Regions from separate parts of the Homo sapiens genome. Here region 2 is linked to region 1. The links come from fine-mapping of genetic effects on gene expression. A gene starts in region 1. The other region holds a variant in brackets. All regions are shown on one strand. Distances are from middle to middle.

Region 1 (4,384 bases):
CTTTCTTAAATTCCCAAGGCAAGCTGAAGAAAACTTTCCACATCTGTATAGTTAAACCTATTGTGTTTGTCATTTGTACTCCAGGGGCTGATACTGTTGTAATTTTTACTTAATGGTTTTATGGCTTTTATGGTCTCATAAACACCTTTCCAACAAATAACTATGGTCAGCAATTCAAAATCAGATGGAGAATTAATTTGTGGCCCAAGAAACCACCCAGGAGTCACTAGGAAAGTGGGTTTCTAGAACGGCCTCCAGGGCTCTGGAGTGCACCCCTCCTGCCCTCCAGGGATCTCTTTCTATAAAGGAGCCCCTTGTCTTTCTGCCGTCTTTAATGCTGTCTCCTCAGAGTTCCTCCTTGCAGTCTATAAATATCCCCGAGTTCCTCTCATTTTCAAACAAAACAAAATAAAAAATCCTCCCCTCAGCCCTGCATTCCCACCCCCTCAGCTTGTGTTGTTTTGCATGCTCGCTCTCTGTCTTTCTCCTCTCTCTCTCTCTCTGTGTCTCTGTCTGTCTCTGTCTCTCTGTCTGTCTCTGTCTCTATCTGTCTCTCTGTGTCTCTGTCTCTCTGTCTCTGTCTCTGTGTCTCTGTCTCTCTGTCTCTGTCTCTCTGTGTCTCTCTGTCTCTGTCTCTGTCTCTCTGTCTCTGTCTCTCTGTTTCTGTCTCTCTCTGTCTCTCTGTATCTCTCTCTCTGTGTCACACTCCTCCCACCCAGTCTTTGCCTCATCAGCAACATTTCTGGAAGGCATTGCCTGCACAGCTCCCACTTCCTCCTGTCCAAACTGGCTCAACTCTGCCCCCTGATGCACACCCCCAACCTCCAACCCTGGGCTGCAAGGGTCCTCCCACCAGGCCTCCCCGTTCCAGCATCCCTGGTTTCCTTGCCTGCAGATTGGGCACCACTCTTTGAATTTTTTCCCATCATGTTTGTTTTTCAGATCATTTTAGGCCTTATTGACTTTTAAAAGAGGAGGAAAAAAACGTGAAACAAGTGAAGAATGAATAGGAAATATCTTTGACTCGATCAGATTACAATATTTGCCTTAGAACATTCTTATTTCTCTCCTTAAAAATATTAAGAAAAACTATCCAAACGACTTCTACCTAGTCACCCTGGACTAGGACATTGTCTAACAAGCCACCTTTAGGGTCATTTGACGCTGAAGGGAGGGAGTACTATTATATTTACCCATGACCAAAGCCCCTGCTAACCTGTGGAAGACTGAGGAGTGGCAAAGGATTTTTGTTTGGTAGAGATGCAAACGAATTCTGTCCAATAGAGAGGTCTGGTTTCACTGGGCTGTAGGGCATCAGCCAGATTCACATGAAATTTAGCAATCCCGTTTCAGTCATCTTTCACTGACTGCCATCCTCTTTGGAAATGGTGTACCATCCTCCTTGAGTTAAATATATCGATGTATTTAACTCAGGCCATTCCGTTTATTTCTAACATTTTGAAAAGGGAATTGTGGAGGAAGTCAGCTTTTTTTTTTTTTTTTTTTTTGAGACGGAGTCTTGCTCTGTCGCCCAGGCTAGAGTGCAGTGGCGTGATCTCGGCTCACTGCAACCTCCACCTCCTGGGTTCAAACGATTCTCCTGCCTCAGCCTCCCGAGTCGCTGGGATTACAGGCGCCCACCACCGCGCCCGGCTAATTTTTGTATTTTTTAGTAGAGATGGGGTTTCACCATCTTGGCCAGGCTGGTCTCGAACTCCTGACCTCATGATCCCCCCCCCCCCCCCCCCCGGCCTCCCAAAGTGCTGGGATTACAGGCATGAGCCACCGCGCCCGGCCAGAAGTCAGCTTTTACATAGTGTTCTGGTGAGGGATTAGAAATTAAGTGTTTTTGCAAAATAAAGTTCATTGTAAAAGACTCTAAGCGAACAATCCCTAACCCTTAAAATGTACCAGGCATTGGTCGGGCTGCTGTGAATGTTCCGGGAACTCGTCTCTCTCGGGGGCGAGCGCTATCACCGCCGGGCTCCAGCCTGTCTCCCAACCACCAACCTGCGCTGCTCTTTGTACCATTCAAAAGTGCCTTCAGAGGGTCTAGATTGAAGTACGGGGCAGGGCAGGCCTGAAGCACAACTGACGGCTCCGTTGAGAGCAGGCCCGCAGCTTCAGCTCCCCAGAGGGCGCCCCACCGCACCCCTCTGCACCCCTCTGCACCCCATTCATTGCCCAGGCTCCGCCCCCTGCCCAGGCCCCGCCCCTGTCCAGGCCCTGTCCCCGCCCTTCCCGGCCCAGACCCCGCCTCTCTCTGCCCTGCGCCCCGCCCAGGAGGCAGGATGCCCGCAGCGGCCGGGGGCCGAGCGCCGCCTGCTCAGCTCCACCCCATAGTCCAGCCTCGCCGACTCCGCCTCTTTTGACACTACGCCTGCGCAAACAGTCATCCCCCACGACCACGCCGTCGCCTTGTGCGCTTGCGCGCGTCCAGGCGCTCCCGTGAGGCAGTGCGAGGCGCGCGGGGCACGGAGGGCGGTGGCGGCGGGCTCCTGCGAGAAGCAAGCGGAACTTCCTGAGGTGACTGACGCGGGCCTCGGTTCTGGGCGCAGGGGTGTGGGGCTGGAGGAGTGGCCGCGATCCCCGTCTGCACCCAGGTGCCTCTTTTTTTTCCTGCGCTCCTGGGGGCTCCTTCCAGGTGCTCCAGCAGCTGCCCGGGGATCAGGGCCCGGTCCGCTGGGCGAGGAGCTGGGGCGGGGGCTGTGCGGGGCCTGTCACCCCCGTCTTCTGCAGCTCGGTGTCGACGGCGATTCGGTGGGCTTGTGCGTTTGTTTTGTCAGCGTGCTTAGGTGTCACAGCTGGGTGACCCTCCGAAGGAAGGTTTTGCCGCTGGCGCGTCTGGTGTATCGCGGCCTTGGGGCCGCGGATCCCTGGGGCTTGCCGCTGCCTCTGGGGTTCGCGCGGCCCTGGCGTCGGGGCTGCCTCAGCGCTGGCTGAAGGCCGGCCCGAAGCACCCTTAATTGTGGCCGCGCGCTTCCCTGCTGCTCCTGCTGTTCTCCGCGTCGCGGTGGTGGACTCTGGAGGTGGAGCCTTGCCCGGCGAGACGTTGAGGTAAATATTTAGTTGATCTTCAGAAGATGTGCCATGCTTATTTGCGTCTTCTTACGTACGGAGGGCAGGGAAGAGAGGCTGCCTAGCCTCCTGGTGGCTTGGGTTTGTTTGGATCCATTTATTTTGAATTAAAAACAAATGCTGCTCTATAAAGTGTAATGCATTTTAAACCATTTTATCTTTGGAAAAAAAGATAAAATGGATCCAAATAGATCCACTTTCTTGTTAATTACTTTTCGTTACTGTTGCGGTTTTCTGAGAACTAGCCTAATTGTTTCTGTTTCTCTTTATCATCATCAAACATTGCAGCTACGACTACCTGTCATTTATCCCGCTCTCGGATATCATGTGATATTTGTCTGTGTCTTCTTTTTAAAAACACTGTCGTCATATTTGTGGTCTAATACTTGTTTTCTTCCCCCCTAGGAGGAATCATTATAGATTCTAAAAATATATTTTCCCTTCTCTGTGGACTTGGTATAAAACGTAGCTTTTTTTCTGCTTGGATTTATTTTCTAAAAATCAACACCGTAAACCCATATCAGATACAACAAAATTGGGGTAGTTAAAACCATGAGTTGTGGAAATGAGTTTGTGGAAACATTAAAAAAAATTGGTTATCCCAAAGCTGATAATCTTAATGGAGAAGACTTTGACTGGTTGTTTGAGGGCGTTGAAGATGAATCGTTTCTGAAGTGGTTTTGTGGGAATGTGAATGAACAGAACGTGTTGTCTGAAAGAGAATTGGAAGCTTTTAGCATTCTTCAGAAATCAGGCAAGCCTATTCTAGAAGGGGCGGCATTGGATGAAGCTCTTAAAACGTGTAAAACTTCTGATTTGAAGACACCTAGACTGGATGATAAAGAGCTGGAGAAATTAGAGGATGAGGTTCAAACTCTACTGAAATTAAAGAACCTAAAAATTCAGCGACGTAATAAATGTCAATTGATGGCTTCAGTAACTAGCCACAAATCTCTGAGGTTAAATGCTAAAGAAGAAGAAGCCACTAAAAAGCTGAAGCAGAGTCAAGGAATTCTAAATGCAATGATCACTAAGATCAGTAATGAACTTCAGGCTCTTACTGATGAAGTTACACAATTGATGATGTTCTTCAGACATTCTAATTTAGGTCAAGGGACAAATCCACTGGTATTTTTATCGCAATTTTCCTTGGAAAAATACCTAAGTCAGGAAGAGCAAAGCACAGCAGCATTAACTTTGTATACCAAAAAACAGTTCTTTCAGGGTATACATGAAGTAGTTGAAAGTTCAAATGAAGACAATTTTCAACTTTTAGATATACAGACACCATCTATTTGTGATAATC
Region 2 (4,384 bases), 70 kb after region 1:
GCAGGTGCTGAGTAAATGGCAGTTGCAGTCATTATTGTCCTCATCAGGGAGCGAAGCATTTTAGTCTTTAGTAAAAAGAATACATTAATGCAAATATGATCTGGTTTGGGTTTCGAATCACAGTGATGGAAAGCCATGCCATTCAGGTGAACAAAGAGGAGATGGAGAAGACGTCAGCACTTCTTGGGGTAAGTTATTATTCCAGATGGTTTGTACTGGCCATCTCTTTCCTGCATGAGATAGTTGTTCCCAGTGGCAGGTCTAGAGTAGATTCTCCTTTTCTTCTCTTCCTTGTTTGGTGTTGACAGTGTTTCTCCCTCTTTCTGACGCCTGCAGGGGAGAACCAAGCATTGAAAAGACCTAAACAGCATCTAGTGCGTGTGTGTCCGGGGAGTTCTTTAATGGCTCCTCAGGATCCTCCTCAAAAGTTACGTTTTTCTTACAGGGACATTGTCCCCTGTAGTTTGGTGAAGGAATTCTTGGGTTTCTTGAAAAACAAAAATACAGAGATGTGTAAAGATGCATGAAAAAATACTTAAAAATGCTCTACTTCAGTTTTCTTAAGAAAACACATGTAGGTGGAGAGTGGGAAAATAGACACAGAGACTGGGAAGGGTGAGCAGTGGCGGGGCGGGGCAAAGATGAAGAGAAGCAGGCTAAAGGGTGCAAACATACAGTAAAATAAAAGAAATAAATTCAGTGTTTGATAGCAGCGTAGGATGACTGTACTTAACAAAAAGGTATTGAACTTGAATGATGGGTGCTCTGAATACCCTGACGTGACCACCACACATTATATACACGTAATACATTTTCTCATGTACCTCATACATCTGCACAAATTTTTAAAAAGGCTAAAGCACATGCCAGGAGCATCTTTAAAATAAAATGTTTAAAGGAAACCCCAATATAACCATCACCTGGTTCAAAGCACAGACTTTCCAGAGTCCTGTGTGCTTTCCCTATCAGAACCCCTTTCTTGCTGCCAAAAGTAACTGCAACCCTGACTTTTGTAGCCTTTTCATCGTTGCTTTTCTTTCTAGCTTTCCCACTTCAAAGCCTAAGCAATGTAGTTTAGCTTTGCTTTTGAACTGTAAGTAAACAGTGACTTACGTGTGGCCTTTTACCCAGCCTTCTACATCTCAGCTCCACCTGTGTTTCTGTGTGTCACTCAGTGCTGTGGAGTTTCCCGCTGTGGACTGTGCTGCCCTTGGTGTCTCTGTCCCACTGCCGATAGGCGTGTGGTTGTTTCCAAGTGGCAGTCGTTACAAACCACGCTGTACCTCTGAGTGCATTCCCTGTGCCTGTGGGCACAGGTTTCTGTGGGCTGTGAGGTGACTAGTGCTGCTGGGACACAGGGAAGCTGTTGCTTAGTTTTATTCAATAATGCCCAATGGCTTCCCAGAGTCTCACCCATGAGAATGCATACGGGATCCCATTCTTGCACATCCTCACTTCCCCTGGGTGCATCAGACTTTTACATTGTAGCCATTTTGGTGAGGCTATAATGATATCTCATTATGAGTTTTGTTTCTATTTTCCTGATTACTAATGTCAACCAAGAAGAGGTGAAAGAGCAGACTGCAAAGCAGTTAGACAAGGCATTCCTGGGGTCTTAGAAACTGCAATTCAGGAGACACAGGTTCAGCTAAAGGCCAATAAGTGTTCTGAAGAGAGGAAGGGGAGTTGAGATTTTTAAAAGGAAGCTAAGGGCGAATACACAGTTGTTGTGAAAGAATTATCATTGTTGGAGGCGGTTGGCTTAGTACATGAGTCCGTTGAGCTCATTGGTTGTCGCTCTTCAGAAGGTGCAGCACTGGCAAAATCTAGCTGTTTTCCAGGATGTTGTGGTCATTGCAGTTGAGCCCAGTTCAGAGGTTCAATTCAAGTTCCTGTTTTTTGTTTTTGTTTTTGTTTTTCAGCATTT[C/G]AGGTCATGCAGGCAGTCCTTAGAATGGCTCCCTGACTCTACTTTAGAGCTCTGGACCAGAGTGATATCATTTTTGTATGTCACATTTCACATTAGTGGGATCGATTAGCTTTTCATAGCATCATTAGCTTTTAGGAATTTCTTTTTGTAAAGGATCTGCTCAAGTCTTTTGCCCATTTTTATATTTTTTCTTACTGATGTATAGGATATCCTGATGTATTCTGGATACAAGCCTGTTTCCTATACTTTCTACCTCTGTCTTGTTCTATGTGATGTTGGATCCCTTTTCTAGTCTTAATATTGTTGGAGAATTGATTCTTTCTTTCCCATTATTTTTACTACTTTAAGTTTGTTTTCTTACCTTTGGGGGAGGATGCTTCTATGAGCCTAGGTATTTCACCATGAGGCAAAATATGTTTATTTTTATTTTTATTTTTTTGTAGAGATGAGGTCTCACTATGTTGCCCAGGCTGGGCTCAAACTCCTGGGCTCAAGACACCCACCTGCCTCGGCCTCCCAAAGTGCTGGGATCACCGGTGTGAACCACCGTGCCTGGCCAAAGTGTGTATTTTTATGCTTATTTTGATAAATTATAGGTTATTTATTACTCTTTTAAGAGCTTTCTTTGGGAATTTTGTGTGTATGTGTTTGTTTGTTGAGACAGTGTCTCACTGTCACACAGGCTGCAGTGCAATGGCACAGTTATAACTCACTGCAACCTTGAACCCTCGGGTTCATACAATCCTCCCACCTCAGCCTCCCAAGCAGCTAGGACCACAGGTGTGTACCACCATGCCTGGCTAATTTTTTTTTTTTTTTTTTTTTTTTAGTGGTGGGGTCGCACTATGTTGCCCAGGCTGGTCTCAAACTCCTGGTCTCAAGTGATCCTCCTGCCTCAGCCTCCCAAAGGGCTGGTATCACAGGCATAAGCCACCGTGCCCATCTCGCTGTTGAGAATTGTTTGATGAACAAATTAAACAATCTTAAATTGTGAAAACTATGAATGAAATTAATTGTGTGTATCATATTTTCAGGCTCGTCTCAAGGAATTGGAGCAAGAAGCTCATTTTGTTGCAGGAGAACGGTTTCTTATAACGAGCAATAACCAGCTTCGAGAGGTAAAGCTGAATTTTGGTTCTTTCATAAAATGTATTTCTTATTCAGGAGTTAAAGGGAGATTTATTTTGAATTTATAAGTATTATTTTATGTCAACTATCTGAAAAGTAAGTTTTTCATGTTCTCTCACAAGTAATGAACACATTGAGATTCATTACTTCAAAGCCTTTAACTTGTAGAAAAGTACTAAATGAGAATTTAAGCATGTTGTAATGTCTGTTTGGGTGTGTCTTCTCTGGCTGTTGGCATGGGCTCTGCTATAGTAATGTTCTGTTTCTCTCAAATGTGAGATTCCCTCACCATGTTTAATTTGTTTTGTTGAAGATCCTCTTTGGCAAGTTAAAGCTGCACCTGCTGAGTCAAAGGAACAGTCTCCCCAGAACGGGGTTGCAGAAATACCCGTCTACATCAGAAGCAGTGGTAAGGTTTCAGAGTTATCCTTTTTCTTTTTAGAATGACAGCATGTCTGCACCACATGTGTGCTGACCTTCAGACCCACCCGAGACTCTCAGGCCGTCCCCTCATGCTGGCAGCAGTTTCTGCAGAAGAGGGGCTCCCCACACCAAGGTTGCTTTTCTCGCTATGGACCAAGGGAGAGAGGCAGACAGTACACTTTTGCAGAAGCAGTTAATTGGCTTGACTTCCTGAAAAGCATAATTTGGTGGAGTTTTGTTCTTAAAACCAATTTCTTGACAATCCAGTCACAACCTCTTTGCTTCGTGTCCCCAAGAGGAACTAGAAACGGGTCATCAGTCTTCTCCTTTCCTCAGATTTATTTTAGAGAATTTTACCTACCCCTCTCTTGAGAGGAATCAATTTTTTTTGAAGACAAGGAGTAGTGAGATTGTGCTGTGTTGGAGTGGGAGAGTATAGATCGATATTCAGAAGACAGTGAGTGCTTTTACTGAAAAGACACAGAGTGGAAGTCAGTAAATAAGTGAATTCATGTTATTGTGAATATTGGTTACTGTGGTGAGAACCAGCTTCTGAGGCTCCAGTTTGTGCTTTCTGTGCTCTGTCCAGCATTCGACTTTGTAACAGAGGAAGGTTTCCTTCTAAGATGTCTCCTCTGGCCCTATTCCCTCTCCAGCACCACGTTCCTCCAGTCTCCGCCCTGTGAGGGTGTCTTAGAGTACAGGCCCTCAAGGAGCCTGAGCTCGTTGACTGTGCCTGCACTTGGCCTTTGCTGGTTTAATGGACAGTTACTGGGTGAATAATGGACTCCCACAGAGGATGCTCCACTGGAGGGACTTGAAACTGCCCTCTTCCAAATCCTCTTCTTCTTCAAGCTTTCTCCACCTTAGTGAAGGGCCCGTCCTCCTTCCAGGTCCTTGGGAGCC

The links. PIP is the estimated chance that this variant, and not a neighbour inherited with it, causes the effect.
Region 2: its variant is the best candidate, but not a certain one, in a credible set for the expression of POLN in whole blood (TOPMed, PIP 0.77).

Annotation. Positions count from the first base shown.
Region 1 is chr4:2,240,193-2,244,576 of GRCh38, reverse strand. It overlaps POLN (DNA polymerase nu), which reads left to right and starts at 2,456. Exons shown (of 26, transcript NM_181808.4): 1 at 2,456-2,526; 2 at 2,787-3,057. It overlaps HAUS3 (HAUS augmin like complex subunit 3), which reads left to right and starts at 2,456. Exons shown (of 6, transcript NM_001303143.2): 1 at 2,456-2,526; 2 at 2,787-3,057; 3 at 3,484-4,384. The coding sequence starts at 3,631. It also overlaps the pseudogene COX6B1P5. RefSeq lists a silencer at 2,026-2,385 and enhancers at 3,066-3,165, 2,772-3,273.
Region 2 is chr4:2,169,759-2,174,142 of GRCh38, reverse strand. It overlaps POLN (DNA polymerase nu), which reads left to right. Exons shown (of 26, transcript NM_181808.4): 11 at 124-188; 12 at 2,962-3,045; 13 at 3,369-3,464. Among named protein-coding and RNA genes, the nearest start is that of HAUS3, 70 kb to the left of the region's middle. RefSeq lists an enhancer at 1-698. The variant C/G (reference allele first, on the strand shown) is at 1,928.